3 separate regions of the Homo sapiens genome follow, and all the other regions are linked to region 1. The links come from fine-mapping of genetic effects on gene expression. A gene starts in region 1. Each other region holds a variant in brackets. All regions are shown on one strand. Distances are between the middles of the regions. Region 1 holds the start of COLEC11 (collectin subfamily member 11). Region 2 overlaps COLEC11 (collectin subfamily member 11). Region 3 overlaps COLEC11 (collectin subfamily member 11).

What was found. PIP is the estimated chance that this variant, and not a neighbour inherited with it, causes the effect. A credible set is the group of variants that fine-mapping cannot tell apart.
Region 2: its variant is the best candidate, but not a certain one, in a credible set for the expression of COLEC11 in ovary (GTEx, PIP 0.71).
Region 3: its variant is the best candidate, but not a certain one, in a credible set for the expression of COLEC11 in gastroesophageal junction (GTEx, PIP 0.60).

What each region holds. Positions count from the first base shown.
Region 1 is chr2:3,589,165-3,599,557 of GRCh38, forward strand. It overlaps COLEC11 (collectin subfamily member 11), which reads left to right and starts at 5,948. Exons shown (of 7, transcript NM_024027.5): 1 at 5,948-6,004.
Region 2 is chr2:3,622,801-3,633,277 of GRCh38, forward strand. All of the region lies in intron 3 of COLEC11 (collectin subfamily member 11), which reads left to right. Among named protein-coding and RNA genes, the nearest start is that of ALLC, 30 kb to the right of the region's middle. RefSeq lists enhancers at 1,604-1,823, 1,854-2,093, 4,727-5,438. The variant G/A (reference allele first, on the strand shown) is at 4,071.
Region 3 is chr2:3,610,755-3,621,231 of GRCh38, forward strand. COLEC11 (collectin subfamily member 11) reads left to right here. Exons shown (of 7, transcript NM_024027.5): 3 at 2,557-2,628. It also overlaps the pseudogene TMSB4XP2. Among named protein-coding and RNA genes, the nearest start is that of COLEC11, 21 kb to the left of the region's middle. RefSeq lists an enhancer at 4,321-4,825. The variant C/T (reference allele first, on the strand shown) is at 5,697.

The DNA.
Region 1 (10,393 bases):
TTTATTTTTAGTAGCGATGGGGCTTCACCATGTTGGCCAGGATGGCCTCGATCTCTTGACCTCGTGATCCGCCCGCCTCAGCCTCCCAGAGTGCTGGGACCACGGGCCTGAGCCACCACACCCAGCTGGCTGCACCATTTCACATTGCCCCCTGTTTCCCCTCATGCCAGCATTTGGTGTTGGGATTTTGTTTTAGCCACCTTGATAGACAAGTCGTGATAGTTCACTGTGGGTTTTGTTTGCATTTCTCTAATGGCTAATGGCGTTGAACATCTTTTCATGTGCTTATTTGCCGACTGTATATCCTCTTTAGTGAAATGTCTCTTCATGTTTTTGCCCATTTGCTACTTGGGCAGTTTGTTATTTTCCTGTTAAGTTCGGAGAGTTCTTTCTATATTCCCGACACTCTCCTTTGCTGGATTTGTGGCTGACAGATGCTTCCTCCCATCCTGTAGCTTGTCTTTGCATTTTCTTCACGGGGTCTTCTGCAGAGCAAAAGGTTTTAATTTTGGTGAAGTTCCATTGATCAGTTATTGCTCTTATAGATTGTACTTTGATGTTAGAATATCAAAGAATGATTTGCCTAGCCTTAGATCCTGAAGATTTTTCTTCCATTTTTTCTAAAAGTTTTGTAAGTTTACATTTTACATTGAAGCCCATGATCTATTTTGAGATAGTTTTTGTATGAGGTGTGGGGCTTATATTGGGGTTCATCTTTTTTGCCTATGGACGTCCTGTTGCTCCACACCGTTCATGGCACATGCTGTCTTCCCTCCACTGAATCGCTTTTGTACTTTTGTGAGAAAGCAGTTGAGTGTATCGGTGTAGATCTAGTTTCGGGTTCTCTGTTCTGTTCCATTGTATAATGTCTTAGAATTGGGTAGATTGATTCCTCCTATTTTATTCTTTTTTTTTTTTCTTTTTTTTTTTTTTTCTTTTTTTTTTTTATTTTTTATTTTTTATTTTTATTTTTTATTGATCATTCTTGGGTGTTTCTCGCAGAGGGGGATTTGGCAGGGTCATAGGACAATAGTGGAGGGAAGGTCAGCAGATAAACAAGTGAACAAAGGTCTCTGGTTTTCCTAGGCAGAGGACCCTGCGGCCTTCCGCAGTGTTTGTGTCCCTGGGTACTTAAGATTAGGGAGTGGTGATGACTCTTAACGAGCATGCTGCCTTCAAGCAGGGCAGAGGGGTTCCTCACTTCCCAGTAGGGGCGGCCGGGCAGAGGCGCCCCTCACCTCCCGGACGGGGCGGCTGGCCAGGCGGGGGGCTGATCCCCCCACCTCCCTCCCGGACGGGGCGGCTGGTCGGGCGGGGGGCTGACCCCCCCCACCTCCCTCCCGGACGGGGCGGCTGGCCGGGCGGGGGGCTGACCCCCCCACCTCCCTCCCGGACGGGGCGGCTGGCCGGGCAGAGGGGCTCCTCACTTCCCAGTAGGGGCGGCCGGGCAGAGGCGCCCCTCACCTCCCGGACGGGGCGGCTGGCCAGGCGGGGGGCTGACCCCCCCCACCTCCCTCCCGGACGGGGCGGCTGGCCAGGTGGGGGGCTGACCCCCCACCTCCCTCCCGGATGGGGCGGCTGGCCAGGCGGGGGGCTGACCCCCCCACCTCCCTCCCGGACGGGGCGGCTGGCCGAGCGGGGGGCTGATCCCCCCACCTCCCTCCCGGACTGGGCGGCTGGCCGGGCGGGGGGCTGACCCCCCCACCTCCCTCCCGGACGGGGCGGCTGGCCGGGCGGGGGGCTGATCCCCCCACCTCCCTCCCGGACTGGGCGGCTGGCCGGGCGGGGGGCTGACCCCCCCACCTCCCTCCCGGACGGGGCGGCTGGCTGGGCAGAGGGGTCCTCACTTCCCAGTAGGGGCGGCGGGGCAGAGGCGCCCCTCACCTCCCGGACGGGGCGGCCGGCCGGGCGGGGGGCTGACCCCCCCACCTCCCTCCCGGACGGGGCGGCTGGCCGGGCAGGGGGCTGACCCCCCCTCCCCCCTCCCGGACGGGGCGGCTGGCCGGGCAGAGGGGCTCCTCACTTCCCAGTAGGGGCGGCCGGGCAGAGGCGCCCCTCACCTCCCGGACTGGGCGGCTGGCCGGGCGGGGGGCTGACCCCCCCACCTCCCTCCTGGACGGGGCGACTGGCCAGGCAGAGGGGCTCCTCACTTCCCAGTAGGGGCGGCCGGGCAGAGGAGCCCCTCACCTCCCGGATGGGGCGGCTGGCCGGGCGGGGGGCTGACCCCCCCCACCTCCCTCCCGGACGGGGTGGCTGCCGGGCGGAGACGCTCCTCACTTCCCAGACGGGGTGGCTGCCGGACGGAGGGGCTCCTCACTTCTCAGACGGGGCGGTTGCCAGGCAGAGGGTTTCCTCACTTCTCAGACGGGGCGGCCGGGCAGAGACGCTCCTCACCTCCCAGATAGGGTTGCGGCCAGCAGAGGCGCTCCTCACATCCCAGACAGGGCGGCGGGGCAGAGGTGCTCCCCACATCTCAGACGATGGGCGGCCGGGCAGAGACGCTCCTCACTTCCTAGATGGGAAGGCGGCGGGGAAGAGGCGCTCCTCGCTTCCTAGATGGGATGGCGGCCGGGCAGAGACGCTCCTCACTTTCCAGACTGGGCAGCCAGGCAGAGAGGCTCCTCATATCCCAGACGATGGGTGGCCAAGCAGAGACGCTCCTCACTTCCCAGACGGGGTGGCGGCTGGGCAGAGGCTGCAATCTCGGCACTTTGGGGGGCCAAGGCAGGCGGCTGGGAGGTGGAGGCTGTAGCGAGCCGAGATCACGCCACTGCACTCCAGCCTGGGCACCACTGAGCACTGAGTGAACGAGACTCCGTCCGCAATCCCGGCACCCCGGGAGGCCGAGGCTGGCGGATCACTCGCGGCTAGGAGCTGGAGACCAGCCCGGCCAACACAGCAAAACCCCGTCTCCACCAAAAAAAAAAACGAAAACCAGTGAGGCGTGGCGGCGTGCGCCTGCAATCGCAGGCACTCAGCAGGCTGAGGCAGGAGAATCAGGCAGGGAGGCTGCAGTGAGCCGAGATGGCAGCAGCACCGTCCAGCCTTGGCTCGGCATCAGAGGGAGACCGTGGAAGGAGACCATGGAGGGAGACGGAGACGGGGACGGGGACGGGGACGGGGACGGGGACGGGGACGGGGACGGAGACGGAGACGGAGACGGAGACGGAGAGCTGATTCCTCCTATTTTATTCTTTTTCAAAATTGTTTTAGCTATTCTAGTTCCTTTCTCTTTTCATATACACTTTAGAATAGCCGTGTCTATATCTACAAAAATTATTGTTATGATTTTGATAGAAATTGTGTTAAGCTTGTACTGTATATTAACTTGGGGGAGAATCAACATTTTTACTCTGTTGAGTCTCCCAATCTATACTTTTTAATTTTCATTTTATTATTTTTGAAACAGGGTCCCACTCTGTCACCCAGGCTGGGGTGCAGTGGTGCGATCTCAGCTAACTGCAACATCCACCTCCCGGGCTCAAGTGATCCTTCCACCTCAGCCTCCTGAGTAGCTGGGACCATTCTACTATGCCCGGCTAATTTTTGTATTGTTTTTGTTAGAGACAGGGTTTCACCATGTTGCCCAAGCTGGTCTTGAACTCTTGGACTCAAGTGATCCTCCCACTTCAGCCCTGCAAAATGCTGGGATTACAGGCATGAGCCACTGTGCTTGGGGTGAGTCTCCTAATCTATGAAGACGACGTGTTTCTCTGTTTATTCAGATCTTTTTTGAGGTTTTCAGCAGCATTTTGTAGTTTTCAGCATGTAAGTTCTATATATGTTTTGTTAGATTTACACCTAAGTATTCCTTTTTTAAAGCAATTGTAAATGATATTATTTTGAATTTTGGTGTCTATGAGTTCATTGTTATTTTATAGAAATCTGCTTGGTTTTTCATTGTTTATTATTTTTTTGAGACAGAGTCTCGCTCTGTCACCCAGGCTGGAGTGCAATGGCACAACCTCAACTCACTGCACCCTCTGCCTCCCGGAGTCAAGTGATTCTCCTGCGTCAGCCTCCCGAGTAGCTGGGATTGCAGGCATGTACCACCATGCCTGGCTGATTTTTGTATTTTTAGTAGAGATGGGGTTTTGCCTTGTTGGCCAGGCTGGTCTCTAACTCCTGACCTCAGGTGATCCTCCCACCTTGGCCTCCCGAAGTGCTGGGATTACAGGTGTGAGCCACCACGCCTGGCCTACTTGGTTTTTTAAATGTTTGCCTTGTATCCTGTCACCTGTCACACTGATTTAATAGTTTCCAGGAGCTCTTTTGTAGACTCTGGGATTTTCTAAGTAGACAACCATGTCATCTGCAACAAGGGACAGAGTTATTTTATTTTTCGAATCTACATGCTGTTTATTTCCTTTTCGGGCCCTGCTGGTGTGCCTAGAACTTTAGCACTGCATTGAGTAAGAGGTAAGAGTGGACACCCTTGCCTTGTCTTGATCTCAGGAAGGAAACATTCCATTTTTGCCCATGAAGTATGATGTTAGCTGTGGCTTTGCCTTTGACAGATGCTCTTTATCAAGTTGAGGAAGGTCCCCTGCACCTATTTTTCTGAGAGTTTTTATCATGAAAGGTGTTGGTTTATGCCAAATGCTGTTTCTATATAAATTGAGATATTCATTTGATTTTCTTTGTTAGCTTGTTAATGGGTTTTTATCAAAGGAGCTTTGAATATTGACATAGCCTCACATTCCTGGATGAAACCCCATTTGGTCATAGTTGATAAATCTTTTTCTATATTGCTGAATTCTGTCTGTTAATATTTTATTAAGGATTTTCTCATCTATATTCATGAGGGTTATTGGTCTATAGTGTTTTTGTTCTGTCTTTGTCTGGTTTTGGTATCAGGGTAATAATCAACTTTATAAAATGAATTGGTAAATATTCCCTCCTCTTCTATTTTCTGGAAGAGGATGTGTAGAATTGGTGTTAATTTTTCTTTAAACGTTTTGTAGACCCTCCTGTGAAACCATCTGGCCCTGAAATGTCTTTCTGGGGAGCGTTTAAATTGCAAGTTCAATTCCCTTCCTTGGCATAGGGCTGTTGAATTATCTGTTTCATGCTGGGCATGTTGTAGTTCGTGTTTTCAAGAAGTGGTTCATTTTGTCTAAGTTGTCAAATTTATGTATAACTTCAATAATACGTTTTAAATAAAGAATCCATTATTTTTCCTTAATTTTATTATGTGTGTGGAATTTGTGTTTTTACAGTTTTATTTTATGATTTCTCAGTCTAAATAAATATTCACCTTTGAACCTAGCTTCTTATGATTGTAATTTTATATGTATCTTTTTCTTAAAGAAGGTTCCGCTATCCCCCAAAACATGCAAGATTCGGGCTGCATAGAAGCTGGATCTGTCCAGCCCCTGACTAACATTTGTTTCTGGCATTAAATGAAACTTGCCTTTAAATGAAACTTAAATGCGTAGAGTGAGTTTCCGGACTCACGTGTGGCCAGGTCTCCACAGGCCGTGGTCAAGCTCTTGCTGACTTTTGAAGCGAAATCCCATATGAACAAAGGAAAGGAGATCAGTCAGCTGCCCTCGTTTCTGTCTGATTGGTGCCAGGTGATGAGCGTCCCTCCTCTTTATGCTCTTTTGAATTTCCACAGTAGTCATGCTTATTTTTTCAAAAAACGAAAAGAAAGAAGAGAAAGCCAAAAAAGAAACAAAATTGGGATGTTCGGGTTGGAGAGTTAGCAGGGGCATCTCCAGGAGGGTCCTGCCCCCCACCCCAAAGCCGGCCTCAGGGAGTTCCAGGCGTTCCCACACTCCCCAGGCAGGACGGTGGACGCAGCGCAGACAGGAAGCTCCCCGAGATAACGCTGCGGCCGGGCGGCCTGATTTGCTGGGCTGTCTGATGGCCCGGGCCGAGGCTTCTCCCTGCGCCTGGGACTGCGGCCGCCTCTCTAAATAGCAGCCATGAGGCGCCTGGGGGCAGTGTCCTCGCGGGCCAGCGACGGGCAGGACGCCCCGTTCGCCTAGCGCGTGCTCAGGTAGGAGACTCTGCCCGGGGCTGCAGCTGAGGGTTTCACGGGGCTATGACAGTGCAGAGGGGAGGCAGGCAGGCTTCCAAACTGGGCGCGAGGTGGGCTCCTGCTGAGCGAGGAGGATGGGAATCTGTCCCTAGATCCAGGCAAAAGATTGAGTCTCAATAAATCTGGCACCAGAGTTCCAAAGTTTGATTAGTTCATGGCGGAAATTCGTGGAGCCTATTGATGAGATGGGATCCGACCCATGAGAGGTGCTGGATGATGGAGTCACCCTCTTGGGTGGCAGATTTCAAACAGCCCAAGGCCCAGGGGGCTAAACAGTCTTCGCTAATTCCAAACCGCAGTGCAGTACCTGGTCTCACAACCTGACGATTGTTCCTGAGCCTGAGCAGCGTCTGACGGGCCAGGCGGACAGCAGCCACGACTGCCCCCAGGGACCAGTGGCTCTGTGTTGGGCTCAGGAACGGGGATCAGAGAGGTGGGGGAAAGGTGGGCCTTGCTTTGGCAACTTTCCAGGGAAAGACTTTGAGTTCAGATGGGGTCATCTAAAACCAAGTGGGGTCATCTTGTCTCCAAAATTGGAAAGGAGGAAAGTTTCCTAGGGCCGCTGCCTCCTACCTGGATGCCTTGCGCTAGGAACTGGCGGTCTTTTTAGAGCTGAGGTGATGTGGTCGTTCTCAATTTAAAGATGAACGTTTAAAGCCATCTCATGTGCATAGCTGGAATTTTGGTTTGATGGGAAGCACTTTGCCTGTGGTAGGCAGAGCACTGCCCCAATCTTTCACAGCTATTCGATTTTGTTTACAATTTTGAAAAATCCATGTACCGTAGAAGAGAGCACACCGGTAATGTGCTGACCGCTGGGGGAAGATAAGAGAGGATAGGTGCCTTCTTACTCTGTGCTCTTGGTAAGAAGCTAAGAGGAGCGTGTGCTGTTGTGGGTGGAATCCAGGCTGCCCCAGAAGGTGCTCTGTCACTGTAGGGAGGGAAACACCGCGGTGGGGCTGGGGCAGTCCCCAGTGAGAGGAACCTCCTCATGCTTCAGGGATGTGGTTCTTAGGAGGTATTTGTGGTGCCTGTAAGATGCTGGGCCTTGCTGTAGATACTTAATGAAAAAGTAGAATAGCATGTTTGGCAACTGAAGCCATGATTTTTTCTCATTGTCTATTTCATTTTTTTTTTTTTTTTTGAGATGGACTCTGGCTCTGTCACCCAGGCTGGAGTGCAATGGCACCGTCTTGGCTCACTGCAACCTCCGCCTCCCAGGTTCAAGCGATTATCCTGCCTCAGCTTCCTGAGTAGCTGGGATTACAGGTGTGCATCATGGCACCTGGCTAATTTTTGTACTTTTTAGTGGAGAGGGGGGTTTCACCATGTTGGCCAGGCTGCTCTCGAACTCCTAACCAGGTGATCTGCCCACCTTGGCCTCCCAAAATGCTAGGATTATAGGCATGAGCCACTGGGCCTGGCCCCATTGTTTATTTCATTCATAACATGTATTTCCTCTCAGGATTCCACGTTTAACCCCCTCTCCCCTGCTTGTCAAGTCTGCCCCTTCCATTGATGGGAGGGCCCTGAGCGTCTTGGGCCCTGGCTGGGAGATAAGGATGTTGTTCTTAAAGAGGTCCTGGGGGTAGCTGTGGCTTCTCCGTTTACAAAATGGAATTCCTCTTCTAAGAAGGCAGTCAGAGGGCGAGACCTCTGGGAAGCAGAGACTCCTTCGGGCGCCTGGGTGCCCTCACCCTGTGCCTACCTGCCCTGGTTCCTGCTGTGCGTCTGAGAGCGCCCCGCTGCAGGGCCTGTGCCTCCTTTGTGCCCATAGGCCTAGCTGGGGCCCCTCGCAGGAAAGTGGACAGAAACTCTGTGAATGGGCAGCGGGGTCAGTGAATGAGTGGAGCGAGTGAAGGCATGAGAAATCCCAGCCTGGGCTGTTCCGGGGATCAGTGGATGAGTGAAGTGAGGGAAGGCACAAGAAATCCCAGCCTGTGCTGCTCCGGGGTCAGTGAATGAATGGAGTGAAGGCACAAGAAATCCCGGCCTGGGCTGCTCCGGGGTCAGTGAATGAATGGAGTGAAGGCACGAGAAATCCCAGCCTGGGCTGCTCCGGGATCAGCAGATGAGTGTGAGTGAAGGCACGAGAAATCCCACCTGGGCTGCTCTGGTGTCAGTGAATGAATGGAGTGAAGGCATGAGAAATCCCACCTGGGCTGCTCCGGGGTCAGCGGATGAATGGAGTGAAGGCACGAGAAATCCCGCCTGGGCTGCTCTGGGATCAGCAGATGAGTGTGAGTGAAGGCACGAGAAATCCTGCCTGGGCTGCTCTGGGTTTCTCTGCTCACTACTCACCCCTTTTCTTGGGAGACGGAGCCTGATCTTTGTTGAAGCCACTCCTGGGACATCTGCGGAGTGAGGGCAGTAAAAGCCTTGCTGAACACCTGGTTATACCTGAACAGAATCACTTCTAGCTAGAGGGGAAATTCCCATGTCAGCCTTTGATTCCTGAGACATTAAAAAAAAAAAAAACTAAACCCAGTTTGCATCCAGCAAACACTGAGAAGTGAGGTTCGACTTGCGTACTGAGTGGGTGGGGAGGAAGAGTTTACTATTGCTTTCAGAAGCCACATACCACAAGGAGCCAAAATACTGCTGCTGAGGCAGGAGCCGGGGAGACTACGGTTATGAGCCCAGTGGACCAGCACGTCTGGCTACAAACCTTGTGGTGCCCCTTGTTTTGACATTATTTTTGTATTTTTTATTTTTATTTTATTTTATTTATTTCATTTTTTTGAGACTGAGTCTCACTCTTATCACTCAGGCTAGAGGGCAGTGGTGTGATCTCGACTCACTGCAACCTCCACCTCCCGGGTTCAAGCGATTCTCCTGCCTCAGCCTCCCGAGTCACTGGAATTCCAGGCACCCGCCACCATGCCCAGCTAATTTTTGTATTTTTAGTAGAGACAGGGTTTCACCATGTTGGCCAGGCTGGTCTCGAACTCCTGACCTCAGGTGATCCACCCACCTCGGCCTCCCAAAGTGGTGGGATTACAAACGTGAGCCACTGTGCTTGGCCCATTTCAACATTATTAGGAATTTCAGGACAATGACAGCAGGGCAGTAACCCACGTCTGCAGACTGCCTGCCCTGGAAATACTGTGTAGACATTAGATATAATAAAGATTTGGAAACACGGAAACACCACGAGGAGAAGAGCAGAAGGCTCTATTTGCGATGCAATTGTGAACTTTCGTTCTGTTGTTTGTTCCTTTATTTACTCATTCACTTGTTCACTCAGTTTGGTGCCTGCTAAACTGCAGGCTTCTGCGTGCCCAGAGACCTTTACGAAGCTGTAGCTTGCACAGATCACTTGCATGTGGACCCAAGCCTGGCAGCGAACAAGGAAGGTGGGAGGAGTGAAGTCAGCTGGTGGGGTCCTGGGTTTCCGCTTTTCGGTTGCCCTTATTGTTCTAATATCCGCGTGAGCACAGGGGAGAAGGGTGTGGGCACAGGCAGCGGGTGAGGGGTGTGGAGAGGAGGCTGGAGGCGGACCGTGGGTGAGGGGTGTGGAGAGGAGGCTGGAGGCGGGCCGTGGGTGCGGGGTGTGGAGAGGAGGCTGCAGGCGGAGTGCCCAGCTGCGTGGCCTGGTGGTGGAGTTGGGGCCGATTGTTCAACTTTCCATATTGCATTGTCTTTAGAGTGAGGAACTGTAATAAGGTACAAGGTTGTTTTGGGAATTAAATCAGATATGTGTCCACATTTGGTATACAACGTATATTGGCTCCTTGTTCTCTCCATCAAAAACCTATTTTTAAAAATCCCTTACATCGTGACTGAAGGAGGAAGGTGAGCCCTTCCTTTGATGCATGGGGAGAGGGTAGTCGGGCAGAAAGAGGAAACAGCCAACAGTGCTGGGAAGCCCTGGATTTCAGTCCCACCCTCACCACACACTGGTTACGCAATGCTGGGAAGCGTTCTTAATTTTTCTTTTCTTTGGCTTCCTCATCTGTGACGAGTGCGTGATGGTGCTGATCTCTGTGCAGTGTATGGGAGTTATTTTCCTCCAACCCAGTGGACGTTCTGTACCCCTGTCCTTTACAAAGTCATTTCTGTAAGGGGCTCTGCAGGAAGAAGCCAGGTCCTCATCTGGTGCGCGATGACCCACACCACAGGACGGCACTGAATGGAAACGGGTTTCCCTGTACCCATTCTGCGGGAGAATTGACTGACGCAGAGGCACTGTGCGGGGGACAGGCATTCTCAGATGAGGAACCCTGGCTTCTAGCCCTTTCCCTGGACTGGGAGCCCATGCATGTGATCACAGTAGGATCAGGAGCTGCCATTTGGTGAGCATTTGCTATGTGCCACACTGGGTCACGGTGCCACACGCATTAATTA
Region 2 (10,477 bases), 34 kb after region 1:
ATTTCTTTTCTTTATAAATTACCCAGTCACAGATATTCAGTAATGGCAACAGAAAACAGACTAAGGCAAGTATATAGTTTTATCAGTTATCTCTACACTTTTAAATGTTTTCATGTTACTAATTAGCATCCTTTTGTTTCAGCTTGAAGAACTTTCCTTTACATTTCTTGTAAGGGAAGTCTAGTGGGAACTTCTTTAGCTTTTGTGTATCTGGGAGACTCTTAATGTTTCCTTTATTTTTGAAGGATGGCTTTGTGAGTACATAATCTTATTGCCAGTTTTTTTCTTTCAGTACTTTGAATATATGATCCCACTTTCTCCTGGCCTGCAAGTTTTCTGCTGAGAAGTCTGCTGATAGCCTTATGAGGGTTCTCTTGGATGTGATGAGTTTCTTTTCTCTTTCTGCTTTCAAAATTCTCTTCTCGTCTTTGATTTATGGTAGTTTGATTATAATGTATCTTGGTGAAGTTTTCTGTGGGTTGAACCTATTTGGAGACTTTAAGCTTCATGTACCTTGATGTCCACATCACTCCCAAGTTTGGAAAGTTTTTTAGGCATTAATTCTTTAAATAAGCTTTCTATTAGCTTCTCTCTATATTCTCCTAATACAACTTCCATAATGTGAATGTTAGCTTTCTTGATGGTGTCCTTTAGATCTCACAGGCTTTCTTAATTTCTTTTAATGCCTTTTTTCTTTTCTCTTCTCTGATTGAATATTTTTAAATGACCTGTCATCAAGCTCACATATTCTTTCTTTTCTTTTGTTTGATCAATTCTGCTCTTGATGCTGTCTGCTGTATTTTAAATTTTATTCATTCTGTTCTTCAGCTTTAGAGTTTCTGTTTGGTTCTTTTTTTAAAAAAAAATCTCTATCTCTTCATTGAATTCCTCATTTTTAATGTATTGTTTTTCTGATTTTGTTGAGTTGTGTGTCTATGTTCTCTTGTATCTCATTGAGCTTCCTTAAAATGATTATTTTGAGTTCTTTGTTAGGCAATTTGTAGATCTCCATTTCTTTGGGATTGGTTTACTAGAGTATTATTGTGTTCCTTTGGTAATGTCATGTTTCCTTGATACTTTATATTCCTTGAAGTCTTGCATTGCTGTTTTCTCATTTGCAAAAGCAGTCACCTCCTCTAGTCTTTATGGACTTTTTTTGGGAGAGAGATTTCTTTACAAAACAGCCTGGCTAGGGATTCTGAGGCTCTCTCAGACCATTTCTGTGGATGCACCTGCTCCACACCTTTTGCTTCTCTTGGAGAGGGGTGAATTTTTAAAGAGTATATGCCTTTTCTTGATCCCACAAAGGCAGTCTAGGTGCTACTAGCCTCTCATTAGTTTCCCCTAGGGCAGTGCTCTGAAATGCTCAAGTTCTTGTGCCTTCTCCCTCCCCATCCCACACAGTCAAGCTATCTGTCTGTGTGAGATGCTGGCACTTGCCATCTGTGGGGGTGCCTTTGGGGAGCTGGCAGAGTGTTGGGTGAAGCATGTGAGCATTTGGGTGCCCGTGGTCCAGTTGGGATGGTTCACAGGAAAGGCGTCTCCATCAGCTTGTTGGGGGGCTTCCTAATAAAATCTGCAGAGCAATTATTAGGGTCCATAGCCTTTCTTCCTAGCTCCCAGTCTCTCCCAACTTCTCCTCCATGTCAGTCACCTCAGTATTGGAGGTGAGACAAGAAAGAAGCAGACTTTTTTTGGGCAGCATCCTGCATGGCTGGGGGAGCTGGAAGCTCACTTACTACACTTTCACTTACTCCAGTGGGAAAAAACATGGGCCAAGGGGGTTTCCCTGGGCACTGAGCTGTGTTGCTCAGCTCACAGTTGCTCAGCTTACAGTTGTGGGAAACGGTCACACGGGTAAAGTGAAACTGTTCTTACCCTCATCAGTGCATCTATTCTTGGATTTTTTTCTCTAACAGTGTGCTGGAACTTCTCCACTGGACTTCCAGACTCCTACAAAGACACTTTTGTTCATGGGGAGTTGTCAACATGGAAGCTTCTTTGGGGGGACTATGGTAGAAAGCTCCTCTTCTGCCATCCTCCTAACATCACCCATGTGTGCATGTCTTGTCTTCCTAATTAGATTATACATTCCTCAAGGGTAGGGATTTGTGGATCACACTCTGCCATCCTGCGAGTAAGTGGTTCCAAGTCCCTGATATAGTAGTTATTCCTAAGTATTAGATTGATAGATTTACAGAGGGTCATTAAACATACATTGACTACCCCAGAGATATGGGGTTAAAGTCTGATAGACTCTTTTCATTTCTACCTCTTAAAGAATCTTAATCAAAGGATCCACAAACACAATGGTTTGCTGATCCAAGGCGGCAAGGATTCTCTATTAAAACCTCTGAGGAATTCCCTTCTCCCTCCCTCCTTTCTTCCTTCCTTCTCCCACTTAGAAGTGGCAGCAGGCTTTTTCAGGCTCCGAGGCCTGTCCCCACTGATGTTCAGGTGTAGGTCAGGCTTCCATGCTCAAGCAGGCCTCAGGTCCCTGCTGAGGGGTGGGCACGGATGGAGGGTGAGCCTGAGGCAGGATGTGCAGGACAGCGACTGCTGAGACAGCGTTCTTGGCTGCCTTGTGGTGGGTGGGGGGCCATGGACCCAGCCCAGGGCGGGGGTTAGGGAAGGCACTCGGGAGGCTACTCGTAATTCAGGGTTTCTGAAATCTGGAGACAGGGAGGGCTAGGAGTCCATAAAGGGATGTGGCATTTGGCATCCCAGGGAGTCAGCTTAGGGGAGGGGCGTTTAGCACTCAGGGGTCTACTCTGTGCCTCAGCTTGGACCCATGAGTTTGGAAAGTTTCTTTTCTTCTTTTTTACTTTTTTTTTTTTTTTTTTTGAGACAGAGTCTCACTCTCGCTCTGTTGTCAAGGCTGGAGTACAGTGGCATAATCTTGGCTCACTACAACCTCTGCCTCCCGGGTTCAAGTGATTCTCCTGCCTCAGCCTCCTGAGTATCTGGGATTACAGGCGCCCACCACCACGCCCGGCTAATTTTTGTATTTTTAGTGGAGACGGGGTTTCACCACATTGGCCACACTGGTCTTGAACTCCTGACCTCAAGAGATCCGCCTACCTTGGCCTCCCAAAGTGCCGGGATTATAGGCATGAGCCGCCATACCTGGCAGACTTTGCAAAGTTATTTAACATCTCTATTATCTGAGTTGTCAGGCAGGGATAGTCATAACATTGTATTTACTTTTTCCAGCAGTCACAGCCAGTCGTGACAGCTTCTGACATCTCCAAAAGGAAGTGCACCTCGTCCTTTGTAGAAATGGGATCACAGGGTAATGGATCTGGAAATCCCACCTTCACACTTAAGTTGGACCCTGAGATGCAGAGAATAGGCAACCACTCTTCCCATGGCCACATGGCTTGGACAGAACTGGAGCAGAAGCCCCATTTCTAGATGGACGTGGTTTGCTGGGAGGGAGGAATATTGTTAGGCACAATGCGGTCCCAGCCTCAGCTGAGCAGTGCAGAGACCACAGACGTGGAACCAGACAGTCCTGGGCTCGCTGGGCCTGTCTGTATCGTGGCTCCACCACCTGTCAGTTATGTCAGCTTCTGGAATCAGCTTCGTCTTCCCAAGCCCCCTTTTTCTGTACCTGTAAAATGGGGGGTGGGGGGTGGGGATCTACCTCCCATGACTCCCAGAAGGGTTAAATGGAAGGATAGACGCACAATGTCTTGGATGCGGCAGTTGCCTGGTGCCTGGTGGCCTGGTGGTTGCTGTTATTATTCTCCGTTTGCACAGAAGAAAGTCTGAGCCCTGGTGCTTTTGTTCATGGGAACTCACTAGGGAATGAGCATGACTTCCGGCCTCTGCAATAACCAACTGACATTCTTTCTGATAATCGTGGCTGTTTCCGTCAGCTGTAAGTGCTCTGTTCTGGATAATGTTTATTCTCAAGGACATTAGGTCAAAGAGAGAATGGAATATGTTTACAAGGACATTAGGTCAAAGAGAGAATGGAATAAACTTAGGACTTTTTATACACAACCTGGGATGAATCTCCTCCCTGAGACCTAGGACACCCTGGGCGCTCTGCCTGTGTGGTAGGC[G/A]GTGCCCGGGCCCCAGGGGGCGCAGATGGGCTGGGAACCAGGACCTCAGCCGCCACCACCCTCCACACCCTCCCTGGAGTCTCACTTTCCAGTGGGACACAGCCCTGCCAACTCCCCTGGCCCACTGGCTCTTCTGCCCGTGGGCTTGCTAGCTGGGTGCTAGTGGATAGCTTTCTAGCTCGTTGCAGCGGGGGCACAGTGGCAGTTCCCTGATGACCGGTCACGAACATCTGTGGCTTCCATGGCATTATGCTGTGGAGACTCACCTGGAGAAAAACAGTGACCTCTGCGGGAACTTGGGGGCCAAGACTTCCTGGTTTCTAGGGTCCTGGGAACCACTGCAGTCCTGGGCAAACTGGGGGCTGCAACTCAACTTCGCCTGGGCATGATGACGCTGGTCACGATGCTGTGCATGACGACACTGGGCACGATGATGGGGGGCATGATGACGGGGGGCATGACGATGGGGTGGATCTGGGCATGATGATGCTGGGCAAGATGATGGCATGGTGATGCTGGGCACAACGCTGGGCACGACGATGGGCACAACGATGAGCATGATGGGGTGGATCTGGGCACAATGACACTGGGCATGATGATGGAGGGCACGATGAGCACGACGATGGGGTGGATCTGGGCATAATAACGGTAGATCGGGGCATGATGATGCTGGGCATGACACTGGGCATGATGACGGTCTGCATCTGGGCATGATGGCTCTGGGCACAACGATGCTGGGCATGAAGATGGGACACGATGATGGGGTGGATCTGGGCATAATGACTCTGGGCACGATGACGCTGAGCACAGTGACGCTGGGCACGATGACGGTGGATCTAGGTATGACGATGCTGGGCATGATGATGGTAGATCTAGGTATGACGATGCTGGGCATGACAACAGCGTGAATCTGGGCACGACGATGCTGGGCACAATGCTGCACACGATGATGCTGGGCATAACACTGGGCGTGATGACAAAGTGGGTCTCAGCACCTGTCCCAGTGCTTCTTGAAGGGGCTCCTGAAGGGGAGGAGCATCCCTGGGAAGAGCGGGACCTGGGTGTGACAGCCCTGCTCCCATGCCAGCCCTGCTGTTGCCCAGCCTGTGGCCACTCCAAACCATTGTTTTCAACTTCTGACATCAAAATCACAGCCTTCACAGGGCGTTGCTGCCATGAGTGGGCCTGGGGTCTGCAGATCCGCTCTCATCCTTGCGTCTTCAGGTCCTAGCATGAGACCTGACGTTTGGAAGGCCCTCCATCCACTGTTGGAAAAATATCCTGAGGTTTCATATCTTCAAATACCTCTGCAATCTGTGGGTGATCCCAGTCTATGGCCAAGGGCCCCCCATCTGTGTCATCCTCCCTTCCCCAGGTGAAGCGGCTGCCCCGCAGGGTTCTAGAGAGCTGGTCTGTGGGACGAGGCTTCCGGCCATGCTGGGCGGGGGCTGTGTTCTCTGCCTATCTATGGAGGTGGGGCTCTGCTTCAGGTTTCTCCAGGGGCTCTCATTTAAATGCAGCTGCTGGCCCAGGAGGGCGGCCTGAGACCCTGCACTGGTCTTAACAGCACCCAGGTGCTGCTGCTGCCAGCCTGGGCTGTCCCCATTGGTGGGGGTCCAGATGCCTCTGCTTCCGCAAAGTGCATGCTCTGCACATGGGGACCTGGCTGCAGTGGGGGCTGCCCTGAACAGGCTGGCTGGGTGTGCGCTGGGGCTTTGAGGGAGTGTCCTGTTGGGAAAGTGAGACCCCCCACCCCCCATTCGAGGAGGTGGTGCGGTTGGATGGCCTATTCTGAGATAAAAAGCCAGGCCATGGCCCAGAGAAAGCCCAGCTGTTAAAAATCACCGAGGAAGCTGAATTTCAAATGCTCTTTTTGCCTCTTCTCCACTTCAGAGGACTGTGTGAAGTGTTCATTAAAATTAATAAGAACTCCACACCTGCTTTGAGCTGCCCTCAATCCTCATGCGTGTCCAGAGGACAGATGGGAGGCGCAGCACTGCTCACAATGGTGATGAGATGTGGGATGGGCTGTGGCGTTCGTGCCCAGTGTGCCGGGTGCCACAGCCAGAAGCTCCTATGGCAGAGAGGGAAGGGATCCAGGGGCATCAGGTGCTGCATTCCTGTTGTCGCACGCAGCCAGCGGGAGGGGGCGTTGCTTGCCTCTTGCAAAAAGCTTTCTGTCACTTGGAGGTGCACGAGGCCTTGGGAGAGGGAAAAAGGCGTTAGGGCTCTTGTTCTCATCTGCTGTCCTTAGAGAACCTCTGGATCTGTAACCACACTACTGTCCGGCCAAGGGTTAGTTTCCAAGAGAAGTCTTCAAGTTGAAATAAGTCAGCTACAGAAAAGGTTGTGGTATGAAGTAGAGAATGTGTTGACAATCTCAGTGGATTTCAACGGTTCTCACCTTTTCTTCTTCCTCCAAACACCCCAAAATAGAATATTTCTGTCAGAAACAACAGCTCACACCAATAGGTCCCAGTGTGTGTGGCTGGTATGTGGAGGTTGGGGTGTAGTGAGGGTCTCCTGGGTGCTTCTGGGGTTCTCAGTTTAAGCCTAGGTGCTGACCAACTGTACAAGCTTGAGCTGTGTGAGGATAAAAGTAGGCTTATGTACATGCACTCATGCACACACGTGCACATAGATGTATGTGCATGTATAGTTGTATGTATGGATACATACCTATATGTATATATGTGCATGCATGTGTGCATATGTATATGTACCTGTGTGTATGTGCATATGAGCATTTGTGTGTATGTGCATATAGCGTGTGTGTGAATAGTATGTATGTGTATGTGTGCTCCTGTAGTATGCATGGGTATGTCATGTGAGTATGCCTTTGTCTATGTATGTGCTGCTGGATGCCCTGTTTTGAGATAACAAAGCCAGGCCACGGGTCCAGAGAAAGCCCAGCTGTTAAAAATCACTGAGGAAACTGAATTCCAAGTGCTCTTACATATGTATGTATATGTTTGTATTCATGTATGTATGTTTGTGTACACATGTATCCACGTATGTAGGTTTGTAAGTTTTATGTATGTGTATATGGGCATGTTTATATGTACATATATACGATGTGCAGTTACATGCTATGTGTGGTTGTATTTATACATAAATGCATGAATGTGTGCATGCATCATGCATATGTGTATGTATGTGTGTTTTTATGTGTGCATATGTTACGTGTTTGCATATTGCATATCTGTTAATATGTGTATGTTTGCATGCACATGTATGTATGTGGAGGTGAATGCACATCTCTATGTGTATATGCATGTGCATGTGTGTATGTATGCATATAGATGTCTGTGCATGCATATGTGTATAGTATGTATGTGTGCATATGTATGTGTATGCATATCAGGGTAGTACGTATGTGTATGTGTACATGCATGTATGTGTGTATAGTATATGTGCATATGTCTGTATATAATGTGTGAGGGGACTTCAAAAAGTTTGTGGAAAAGTGGAATTAAAAAATAAAAATACAAATATAAACTTTATTTCTCAATATAAGCACCATGAAGTTCAAGACACTTTTGTAAGTAATTACACCAGCCATTTAGTCCATCCCTAAAGAACTGAGGGTTCCTCATGGTGAAATTCCCAGGAATTCCCATGTGGTCTTTTTTACATTGTTTACTGAAGAAAAATGAGTGCCCTTTACAGATTTTTTAAGATGAGGAAACAAGAAGTCAGAAAGAGCCAAACTGGGAAAGTTGGATGCTTAATGATTTCCAATAGAAACTCTTGCAAAATTGTCCTTGTTTTATAAGGAGAATGAGCAGGAGCATTGTTGGGGTGAGAAGGGCTCTGGTGAAGCTTCCTGGGCATTTTTCTGCTAAGGCTTTGGCCAACTTTCTCAAAACCCTCTGATAGTAGGTACATGTTATTCTTCTTTGGTCCTCCACAAAGAGAACAAGCAAAATGCCTTGAGCATCCGAAAAGCCTGTTGCCGTGACCTTCACTCTCGGCCAGTCTGCTTTGCTTTCCTGGACCACTTCCAACTCTTGGTAGCCATTGCTTTGACTGTTTTGTCATTAAGATTGTACTGGTAAAGCCACGTTTCGTCTTCTGTTACAATTTTGAAGAAATGCAATACAATACAGGCCCATAATCTCAGCACTTTGGGAGGCCGAGGTGGGTGGTCAGGAGTTCGAGACCAGCCTGGCTAACATGGTGAAACCCCATCTCTACTAAAAATACAAAAATTAGCCAGACATGGTGGTGCACGCCTGTAATCCCAACTACTCAGGAGACTGAGGCAGGAGAATCACTTGAACCTGGGAGGCAGAGGTTGCAGTGAGCCAAGATTGCACTACTGCACTCCAGCCTGCACGACAGAGCAAGACTCTGTATCAAAAAAAAAAGAAAAAATTAAAAAAAAAGATGCTTAGGCATTCTTCAAAGAATTTTAACAGTAAAGCAAAGCAGACTGGCCGAGAGCGAAGGTCATGGCAACAGGTTTTTTGGATGCTCAAGGCATTTTGCTTGTTCTCTTTGTGGAGGGCCAAAGAACAATAACATCTGCCTACTATCAGGGTGTTTAGACAAAGTTGGCACTGGCTCATCCGGTGGAGGGAGTGTTTCTCCACCCCCAGGCCCAGCTGTGCCCAGTGCTTGGCCCTTCCCCCAAAGGCCTCCCTGCAAGGCTGAGGGGACCGTGGAAAGGGGTCTGGTGGTCCAAGCTATGGGTTTAGGGCAGAAGGGAATAAGGAGGGACGGGAGGGTTTGGGCCACCTGTAGCCACCCTAACTCCCCACCAGCCGGGTATGCTTGGTCACGGCTGACACAGGCGAGAGGGCTCGGAGGGGCCCCTGCTCGGAGGGGGCTCTGCTCGGAGGGGGCCCCTACTCGGAGGGGACTCTGCTCGGAGGGGGCTCTGCTCGGAGGGCTCTGCCTGCTGCTTTGCACACTCTGGTCTCTTGGTCTCTGTCTCCTGCCTCCTGGGCTTGGGAGTAGGGCACTGCTTGTCCTCCCACAGGAACACAATCCTGCGCCATGTGTCCAGCCCCTGGCTCTTAGAAATGCAGGCTTCCCGCAGTTCCTGGCCCGTGGAGGGTGGCTTTGGCTGTACCCGGGGTGGAAGTCTCACAGGCTGGGGCCTACCCACAGTGGGGGTGCAGGGTTTGGAGCCCTGGACGTGGAGTCAGGAGGCCTTGGTCTGAGTGAAATCCACGCCATCAGTGTGCGCTCGCGCTCCTGCTCCTGATGCTCGCTGTGACCCGAGGCACGGAATGCCCTGAGGTGCCACTTGACAGACAGGGAAACTGAGGCTTACAGAGGGCTGTAACTTGTGCAGGGTTTCATGGGTGGAGCACTGAGATTTGGGGCCAGGCCTGTCTGATGGCAGAGGCTGTGCTCGGAATCACGGGGCACTGTGTTCTTTCCTGGCTCACTGTATGACCTGTGGTGGTCACCTGACTCTCTGAACTCCTCTTCTGGAGCAGAGGGCAGTGTCTCTGTCTCTCAATACCACACAGCGGGCAGCTTCCAGGACAGAGATGATTTCCTCCCGGCTGTGGAGGCTGGAAGTCAGGGATCCGGGTGCCGGCAGGGCTGCTGCTCCTGAGGCTGCTGTCCGGGGCTTACAGGCGGTGTCTTCCTGCTGCGTCTCACGCGGCCTTTCCTCCATGCATGCACAATCCCGGCCTCTCTTTCTCTTCGGTAAAGCCACAGTCCTGTTGGACCAGGGCCCACCTGTGTGACCTCTTTAAAGACCCTGCTTCTAGTAGGACTCACACTGGGGTTAGGGCTCCATCGTCAGAATTTTGGAGGATGTAATTCAGCCCTAACAGATGGTGCTGCTAGGGACGTTGTGAAGCTGAAATCAGCGTGTACGTGTGGATGTGGTTTCCTGGCACACAGTCTACCTGGGAGTATTCTAATTTATTTCTGAAAGATGGAAAAATGAGCAGAATCCCGGGACCCCCACTGAGTCCCCACTTGGAGAGGGGCAGCGTCAGAGCACGGGAAAGAAAACCAAAGTCCCAGCCCTAGGAACGTCACCTTCCCATGAAAAAGCACAAACACCACGGGCTGAGGAGCGACGTGTCAGAGGCGGATTGTGGCCCTTCACCTGAACAAAGAGCCAACTATTTGCTAAGAAGCTTCCACCTGGAAAAGATGGGGAGGGCGCGAGGGGCTTCCTCCCCACCTGGGAGCTGTTTCTCCCTGAGACCCCTGAGAGATGAGATGTGAAGCTGTTCAAGGACAGTGACAGGGAGAGAGAAGCGGCCCACAGGCCCCACTTTCCCGTCTTCCCACCCACACAGCTCCTCCCTGGAGGACGAGGCCAGGCCCCCAGGCTGACAAGTAGACCAGGACCGGGATGGTGAGGCCCAGGAGACAGTGGAGGAGAAGCCCCTGGGCACAGATGCACTTGGGGAGGCTCCTCCCATCTTCGG
Region 3 (10,477 bases), 22 kb after region 1:
CTTAGCCTGAGAACCACCCCTCAGAGGGGCTTTTCGGATCTTGCCGTCTAAATTATGGCTCCTTTGTTGAGGTTATTGCCTCATTTTATTCTTGCGTCCGGTGTTGCTAATGAGAATTCTTATGTCCATCTGATTCTCATTCACAGGTATGCAGTCTTTAAACCTGTTTTTCCCTCCTGGGTAGCTGACAGCATTTTCTCTTTATTCTTGGTGTTCTGTGATGTTGCTCTGACATGTCTGAGTTACTTTTCTCTGATTTTCCCCGTGTGGTTCTCCGCAGGCCCTTTCACAGAGTTCTTTCATGGCTTTCCTTAGCACTGGGAAATCGCAGCTACTAAATCTTCGCAGCCACGAAGGCTTTGTTCCTCTCTTTCCGGAATTGCTGTCAGAGCGACATTGGCATTTGTGAGTTTTTCCTTCAACTCTCAACTTCGTAACTTCAAAACAAACAAACAAAGCCTGCATTTCTTATTAGTGCTGCCCTGTGAACAATGCTTCCTCCTCACCGCTGGCTCCACGAGGCCTCTTCATCCTGGGTCACCGGGGACTCGCCTTTCTGCGGAGTGGCTCCCGCACAGCGTCTCTGCTCGGCTCTTTCCGCTGCAGTGTGCTGTTGTTCCCGGACTGGCCTCTCCCATGTTATGAGGACCTCCATTCACCGATTGCACAGTCAGCGTCCGGCTGCTCCACTGTTCCGTCTTCTCTGTTCTTTCTTCTGCACGATGCTGGTGCCCCTGAAACCTCTGGGGATTCTTAATGCTGAGTTTATCTTGTTAGTGGATATTTCTTGCTAAACTGTCAATACTTCTCTTTTCTTCTTACAAGATAAGAAAGCAAACTTGAGAACTACTTGGAGCCTCAGAGCAGCATGTGGGTGTTGATCGTGGGTCAGCCCAGGGGCAGCCCACAGGCTTTTCAGTAGGTGGCCCTGCGGGGCTGGGGCTGTGGCACGGGGGTGATGTGGGGATGGGCCTGCCACCATCGCTGTGCTTTTCTCTTTGTTACTTGGATTTAAATGGAAAGTCCCCTCCGTGAGGCCAGATAATCAGCTTTGGGGATTTTGTGGAGGGATCTGTAATCTCAACTGAGCCTCTCTCCAAGACAAGGTGTGTGGGCCACAACGTGTGTGGGCGGCAAGCCGTCCAGGTGCCGAGGCAAGAGACCGAGGGCACGAGCTGGTCCAGTATGATAAAATATATAAAACAACAAGAGTTATACTCTATATGCTCTCTCTATATATAGGGTTGTTTTGTATATTTTATCATACTGGAACAGCTCGTGCCCTCGGTCTCTTGCCTCGGCACCTGGATGGCTGGCTGCCCACAAAGGTGCAAATGGAGAGTTATAGAGAAGTAAAGTTTACGTGAACGCTGGCACAATTGTGCAGAGAGGGAAGGTGAACTTGTAGCATATCAGCGCACACACGCGCACACATACACGTGCACACCTATGCACATGCGGACACACGCACACACATGCACCCACGCACCCACGCACACGCATGCACACATGCACACACATGCACACACACTCCCTGTCTGCAACCATTCAGAGGAGGGATAGTGCAACAGGTAAGAAATACGGCCTTATAAAAATGACTACAGAGCCGAGTCCCAGCCAGCAGAGTGGCCCTGTTGAGAGAATCCGGAAGAGCCTCCCGGAGAACCAGGTGAGAAGGCGGACCCTGGACAGGAGCCGGCTGACCAGGCAGGCTGGGCAGAGGGCACAGAGTAGGGAAAGACCGGGGTCCGATGTAGAGACCACACTGAGGAGAGGCTCAAGTACTGCACGTCATTTATAGCTGAATCTAGAGACATAATAGAATTCCATTTGTTTCAGGACAGTCATTTTGGTGTGGATTAGAGTGGGGGGAGAAGACTGGAGTGGAGGTGTTGGTGTCCACAGGCCTTCCTGAGGCCCCTGGCCTCACTGCGCACATCTCTGAACTGTGCCTTGTAGGGTGTCTCCACCAGTGATTCACCCTCTGTCTCCTGCACCTGCTGAGCCTTGGAAGTGGGTGGACGTGCCCACCTGGTCACAGGCAGCCCCCGTGGTGGAGGCCCTGGCTGAGCAGGAGCCTGTGCCCTGGGGGGCTCACACTGATGGGGCCAGTGGGATGCTGACATAGTTCATCCTTCCCTGAGTACCAAGCAGATGAAGCTCAGGGAGAGGTCGGGGTGACGCTTCCCATGGGGGCGCCTGGAGACGCTGCCGCCCTTCTCATTGGTGTTAGGGTTGGGGAGAGCCGGCGTTTAGACGCGGCACTGTGCACCCAGGGACAGACTAGGAGCCCGCCAAGAGGGGTAACTGGTGAGAGAAACACAGGCCCTTTCTAAGAGAGAAGGTAGGGCAGGGAGACAAATAGCCCTAAAAGCAGAATCAGGGGCACCCAGAGTAGCGGCTGGGCTGCAGGCGGGGAGGGAGGTAGGGAGAGAAGGGGCTTGGCCACCTGCAGGGACCCGGGGAGAACGCTTCTAACTGTTCTTCCTCCACAAATCACTCTGAGACGCTGTGCTGGCCAGACGAGCTGCTAAATGGATGTGACTTCTTCCACAGGGGATGCGGGAGAGAAGGGAGACAAAGGCGCCCCCGGACGGCCTGGAAGAGTCGGCCCCACGGGAGAAAAAGGTACCTGCAGCCCTGGGCCGGCCCTCAGAGCTCTGAGGATGGAGGCACCGCTCCTGCTAGAGCCGGGTGGGGAGGTGGGGGTGGTGGTTCCAGAGAGGACAGGCCCTGCCCTCTGGGTCCCAGGGAGGCAGACGGCATGGGACTTGGGTCGGGAGCAGGGAGGGGAGAGTGGTCCTTCAGCACTGCTCCTTGTGCTGACCTGTGGGGCTCTAGGAAAGAAAGTGTGTCCTGGAACTCAGCAGAGGCTCCTGGCCCCTTTAAGCCTCATCTGTAAGACGGGAATAACAGCTTCCAGATCATTTGTGAGCGCTAAGTGAATCAGTGTCGTTATGAAGGCGGCGTGGCAGAGTACACAGATAGGACCCTCATCACTTTGCGTCTGTCTCCTCCTTCGTAAAGTCGTGTGATTCTGCCTGCCTCGTGGGACTGTGCCGAGGCTCATGGGAGCTAGATCATACGTGTAAAGGAAATGTATCATGTGTAAAGTAGCTGCACAGTGCATGGCAGGGGTTAAATATATGGTGGCTATTATCTTTATATACTCCTTGTTACTGCTTAAAATTTTTTTAAGTGTTTTTTCTTTTTCTTTCTTTCTTTCTTTTTTTTTTTTTTGAGACTGAGTCTTGCTCTGTTGCCCAGGCTGGAGTGCAGTGGCACAGTCTTGGCTCACTGTAACCTTCTCCTCCCAGGTTCAAGCTATTCTCCTGCCTCAACCTGTTGAGTAGCTGGCATGTGCTATCACACCCAGCTAATTTTTTTTTGGGGGGTATTTTTAGTAGAGACTAGGTTTCACCATGTTGGCCAGGCTGGTCTCGAACTCCTGGCCTCAAGTAATACATTTTTTCCAAGTCATTAAAGATTGTCTCTAGAAATGCTTTCTCAGTATGTACACATCATTCTATGAGAACATATACTACAGTTAGCCAACCCCCCAACCAATCTTTTAACATTGGAGAGTTAAGTTGTTTCCAATTAAAAAAAATTATTATAACAACACAAAGATAATTAAATATATATTTAAGCCCATACGCTGTTTTTTGAAACGTTTTTGAGGTATAATTTATGGTCATTCTCATTTTGAGATTACCGTGCAATCAGTTTTGACCATTGCCCTCGCCCGTACCCCTCATCCTAAGCAAGAGCTGGAACATTCTTTTTTTTTCTTTTTTTTAAATCAGCTTTCCATTTATTAAGTTTAGAGAGGAACAATTCTAAGTAAAGCTTTAAAAAATCTTCAACACAGATATTTTTTATAGGCAATACAGAAGGACAGGATGACCAATAAGGGTGCTCAGAGTAAAACTCCTAAAGTTGCACAAGTTGTAGAAGAAAATTTCTTATAATGAAAGGACATGAGTATCTAGATTGAACAGAACTACCAGAAACCTGGCAAAGTAAACGAAAAAAAGTTTCATACCAAGACAACTGACTTTGAAATTTCAGAACACAAAGATAAAAACAAAATCCAAAATTTTCCAGACACTAAATATCACATACAAAGAATTAGGAATCCGAATAACATCAGTCTTCCCAATATTAGCAGTTGAAGAAAGAACAGTACCTTTAAAATCCTGAGGGAAACTTATTTCCATTCAAGAATTCTACACCCAGCTAAACTATCCATCAAGGCTGAGAGCAGAATAAAATATTTTCATGTATTTCAGTTCACAACAATGTACCTCATATGCACCCTTTCTCAGGAATCCACTGAGAAATATTTTCTTTCTTTTTTTTTTAAAGGGATTTTATTTATTTATTTATTTATTTTTAGTATTTATTGATCACTCTTGGGTATTTCTCGCAGAGGGGGATTTGGCAGGGTCATAGGACAACAGTGGAGGGAAGGTCAGCAGACAAACAAGTGAACAAGGGTCTCTGGTTTTCCTAGGCAGAGGACCCTGCGGCCATCCGCAGTGTTTGTGTCCCTGGGTACTTGAGATTAGGGAGTGGTGATGACTCTTAACGAGCATGCTGCCTTCAAGCATCTGTTTAACAAAGCACATCTTGCACCGCCCTTAATCCATTTAACCCTGAGTGGACACAGCACATGTTTCAGAGAGCAGGGGGTTGGGGGTAAGGTCAAAGATTAACAGCATCCCAAGGCAGAAGAATTTTTCTTAGTACAGAACAAAATGGAGTCTCCCATGTCTACTTCTTTCTACACAGACACAGCAAGAATCTGATTTCTCTATCCTTTCCCCACATTTCCCCCTTTTCTATTTGACAAAACCGCCATCGTCATCATGGCCCATTCTCAATGAGCTGTGGGGTACACCTCCCAGACGGGGTGGCGGCCGGGCAGAGGGGCTCCTCACTTCCCAGAAGGGGGCGGCTGGGCAGAGGCGCCCCCCACCTCGCGGACAGGGCGGTGGCCGGGCAGAGGCTCCCCCCACCTCCCAGATGGGGCGGCTGGCCAGGCAGGGGCTGCCCCCCACCTCCCTCCCGGACGCGGCGGCTGGCCGGGCAGGGGCTGCCCCCCACCTCCCTCCCGGACGCGGCGGCTGGCCGGGCGGGGGCTGCCCCCCACCTCCCTCCCGGACGGGGGGGCTGCCGGGTGGAGATGCTCCTCACTTCCCAGACGGGGCGGCTGCTGGGTGGAGGGGCTCCTCACTTCTCAGACGGGGCGGCTGCCCGGCGGAGGGGCTCCTCACCTCTGAGGCGGGGCGGCCGGGCAGAGACGCTCCTCACCTCCCAGACGGGGTGGCGGTCGGGCAGAGACACTCCTCAGATACCACACGGGGTCGTGGCTGGGCAGAGGCGCTCCTCACATCCCAGACAGGGCGGCGGGGCAGAGGCGCTCCCCACATCTCAGACGATGGGCGGCCGGGCAGAGACGCTCCTCACTTCCCAGACAGGATGGCGGCCGGGAAGAGGCGCTCCTCACTTCCCAGACTGGGCAGCCGGGCAGAGGGGCTCCTCACATCCGAGACTATGGGCGGCCAGGCAGAGACACTCCTCACTTCCCAGACGGGGTGGCGGCCGGGCAGAGGCTGCAATCTCGGCACTTTGGGAGGCCAAGGCAGGCGGCTGGGAGGTGGAGGTTGTAGCAAGCCGAGATCACGCCACTG[C/T]ACTCCAGCCTGGGCAACATTGAGCACTGAGTGAACGAGACTCCGTCTGCAATCCGGGCACCTCGGGAGGCCGAGGCTGGCAGATCACTCCCGGTTAGGAGCTGGAGACCAGCCCGGCCAACACAGCGAAACCCCGTCTCCACCAAAAAAATACGAAAACCAGTCAGGCATGGCGGCGCACGCCTGCAATCCCAGGCACTCTGCAGGCTGAGGCAGGAGAACCAGGCAGGGAGGTTGCAGTGAGCCGAGATGGCAGCAGTACAGTCCAGCTTCGGCTCAGCATCAAGAGGGAGATCGTGGAAAGAGAGGGAGAGGGAGACCGTGGGGAGAGGGAGAGGGAGACCGTGGGGAGAGGGAGAGGGAGACTGTGGGGAGAGGGAGAGGACTGGAACATTCTTATTTCACTTAGCGTAATGCCCTCCAGGTTCATCCAGGTCACAAATGCTGGGATTTTCTTATATTTCAAGACTGAATAATATTCCGTTATATATGTGCCATGTTTTCTTTATCCACTGATTGGTCAACAGACGCGTAGGTTGTTTTTATGTGATGGCTGTTGTGAATAATGCTGCAGTCAGCATGAAACTGTAGGGATCTCTTCAAGATCCGATTTCATTCCTTTGGCTATGGACCCAGTAGTGACATTGTTGGATCATGTGGTAGTTCTGCTTTTGATTTTTTCTTTTCTTTTTTTTTTTTAAGTTTTTAAACTTTTTATTTGCATATTTAAAAAATTGTGCATTCCAATAATTAAAATCATTTGACAAAAAGAAAAAAATGGCTCTCTGATTAAACTGCATTACAGCCTGCAGGACACCTTGGGCCAGCTTGGTTTTATTCTAGATTTCACTGTCATCCCACCCCACCTCTTCCTTCACCAACATGCAAGTTCTTTCCTTCCCTGCCAGCCAGCCAGACAGATGGGAGAGACAGGCGCGGCCTTCGTTGTCCGTAGTTCTTTGATGTGAAAGGGGCAGCACAGTCATTTAAACTTGATCCAATCTCTTTGCATCTTACAAAGCTAAACAGCTAAAAGAAGTAAAATAAGAAGGCAATGCTTGTGGAATATACAGTGCATATTGGCGGCGCACGCCTCACTACGATTTGCCTGCTTGCTTCTCCTGTTCAGTCGTTTCTTTGGAAGGCAGTGGATTTTTCTCTTGAGTCTCTGTCTTCTTCAGTTTCGACTTATCGAATTTCTCGATCTCAGCCATATCGGGTTTGTCAGACATGGTTGTGGAGGAAAAGCGGAGCGAGGCGTGCGAGAACGAGAGAAGTCTGGTCTGCGCAGTGGCCACCACTGAGTTGTCGCTTTTGATTTTTTCAAGGAGCCTCTGTACTGTTTTCCATTCCCACCAGCAATGTCTAAGGGCTCGCCTTTCTCCACATCTTCTCCAATGCTTAATCTCTTTTGACTTTTTGATACCAGCCATCCTAACAGGTGTGAGGTAATGTCTCATTGTGGCTTTAGTTTCTATTTTCTTGATAATTGATGATGTTGACCACCTTTCCATAAACCTGTTGGACATTTGTATGTCTTCTTAGAAAAATATCTATTCAGATTCTTTGCCCATTTTTAAATTGGGTTATTTGTTTTTCGGCTATTGAGTTGTATGAATTCCTTACATATTTTGGATATTAACCTCTTATCAGATATATGGTTTGCAAATACTGTCTTCCATTCCATAGGTACCTTTCTGTTTTGTTGATTGCTTTCTTTGCTATGCAGAAACTTGTTAGTTGGATAGGTTAGTACCACTTATTTATTTTTGCTTTTGTTGCATGTGCTTTTGGGGTCATATCCCAAAAAATCATTGCCAAGACCAATGTCAAGGAACTTTTCCCTTACATTTTCTTTTAGGAGTTCTGTGATTTCAGGTATTACATTTAAGTCTTCTATTTTGAGCTGATTTTTATGTATGGTATAAGACAAGGATTCAGTTTTGTTTTTTTGCATGTGAATATTCAGTTTTCCCAATAGCATTGTGAATTCTTTGTGCCTTTGTTGAAGGTTAGTTGACTGTATATGCACTCATGGGCTTATTTCTGTGCTTTCTTCTCTGCTCTATTGTCTATGTGTCTGTTTTTATGCCAGTGCTTGTTTGAGCAAGTATACTGGTTTGATTACCATCTATCTGTAATATAATTTGAAATCAGGAAGTGTGATGCCTTCAGCTTTGTTTTTCTTGCTTAAGGCTGCTTTGGCTATACATGACCTTTTATGGTTTTACATGAATTTTAGGATTTTTTTTTCCATTTCTCTGAAAAGTGCCTTTGGAATTTTGATAGAGATTGCACTGAATCTGTAGATTGCATTGGGTAGTATGGACATTTTGAAATATTAATTCTTTTGATCCACGAACAGATATTTTTTCCATTTATTTGTGTCTTCAATGTTTCATAGTTCTCAGTGTACAGGTACACAACACTTCCTTGGTTAAATTTATTCCTAAATATGTCATTCTGTTTGGTGCTACAGTCAAGGAGATTGTTTCCTTAATTTTTTTCAGGTGGCTCATTGTTAGTGTATAGAAATGCTGCTGATTTTCGTGTGTTGATTTTGTATCCTGCAACTTTACTGAATTTGTTTATTAGTGCTAACCAGTTTTTAGTGGAGTCTTTAGGGTTTTATTTATATAAGATTATGCCATCTGCAAACAGAGCCAGCTTTACCTCTCCCTTTCCAATTTGGATGGATCCCTCCCTCCTTCTTTCCCGCCTCCCTCCCTCCCTCTCCCTTTCTCTTCCTTTCTTTCTCTCTTTCCTTTTCTTTCCTTTCCCCTTTCCTTTTCTCTCCTTTCCACTTTCCTTTTTTCTTTCTTGCCTAATTGTTCTGGCTAGGACTTCCAGCACTATATTGAATACAAGAGGCGAGAATGGGCATCCTTGCCTTGTTTCTGATTTTAGAGTAAAGCTTTCAGCTTTTCACCAGTGAGTATGATGTTAGCTGTGGACTTCTCATACATGGCCTTTATTGTGTTGAGGTGCATTCTTTGTATATGTGCTTTCTTGAGAGCTTTTATCATGAAACAACACTGAGTTTTGTCAAACGTTCTTTCAGCATCTACTGATGATAATATGATGTTTATTCTTCATTCTGTTAATGTGGCATATCACATTTATTGATTTCTGTATGTTGAACCATCCCAGGCATAAATTTTGCTTGATCATGGTGTATAATACTTTTGTTTTTGAGACGGAGTCTTGCTCTGTTGCCCAGGCTGGAGTGCAATGGCATGATCTCGGCTCACTGCAACCTCCGCCTCCTGAGTTCAACCGATTCTCCTGCCTCAGCCGCCCAAGTAGCTGGGATTACAGGCACGCACCACCACGCTCAGCAAATTTTTGTATTTTTAGTAGAGATGAGGTTTCACCATGTTGGCCAGGCTGGTCTTGAAATCCTGACCTCAGGTGATCCACCTGCCTTGGCCTCCCAAAGTGCTGGGATTACAAGCATGAGCCACCGCTCCCGGCCGTGTATAATCTTTTTAATGTGCTGTTAAATTTGGTTTGCTAGCATTGTGTTGAAGATTTTTGCATCTGTGTTCATCAGGGATATTGGCCTGTAATCTTTTTTTCTTGTATTGTTCTTGTCTGGCTTTGGTATCAGGGTAATGCTGGCTTTTAAAAATTAGTTCAGAAGTATTCTCTCCTCTTCAATTTTTTGTAAGATTTTAGAAGGATTGGTATTAATTCCTATTTAAATTTTTGGTAAAGTTTGGCATGAGGCTACCAGGTCCTGGGCCTTTCTTCGATTGGAGATTTTTGACTACAGAATCAGTCTCATTACAGATCTGTTCAAATTTAGTATTTTTTCATTATTCAGTCTTTGTGGGTTGTATGTTTCTAGGAATTTATCCATTTCTTCTAGGTTATTCAAATTTTTGATGTATAATTATTCGTATTACTCTCTTATGACCCTTCATATTTCTGTGGTATCAGTTGTAATTTCTCCATTGCATTTCTGATTTTATTTGAGTTACCTCTTTTTTCTTCGTCTAGCTAAAGGTTCGTCAATTTTTTTTTTTGCCTTTTCAAAAAGCAACTCTTAGTTTTGTCGCTTTGCTACAGCTTTTCTAGTCTCTCTTTGATTATTTCTGCTCTGATCTTCGTTATTTCCTTACTTCTGCTAACTTTGGGCTTCATTTGCTTGTTTTTTTCTAGTCCCTTATGGTGTAAAGTTAGATTGTTTATTTGTAATCTTTATTTTCCCTCCATGTAGGTATTTATTGTTATAAAATTTCCTCTTAGAATATCTTTTTGCTGTAGCCCATAAGTTTTTGTATGTTGTGTTTTCATTTTCATTTGTTTCAAGATATTTTTTGATTTCTTTTTTGACTCATGGATTGTTCAGGAATGTGTTGTTTAATTTTCTCGTATTTGTGAATTTTCGTTTTCCTCCTCTTGCTGATTCCTAGTTTTATCCTGTTGTGGTTAGAAGAGACGCTTGATATGATTTCAGTCTCCTTGAATTTGTTAAGACTTGTTTTGTGGCCTAACGTATGAGCTATCTCAAAGAATGTTCCGTGTGCACTGGAGAGGAATGTGTTTTCTGCTGCTGTTGGATGGAATGTTCTCTGTTAGCTCCATTCGGTCTAAAGTGTAGTTTATGTACAATGTTTTCTTACTGATTTTCTGTCTGGGTGATCTTTCCATTGTTGAAAGTGAGGTATTGAAGTCCCCTACTATTAGTGTATTCTATCTGTTTGCCCTTCAGATCTGTTAATATTTGCTTTACATATTTAGGTGCTCCAATGTTGAATGTGTGTATATTTGTAATG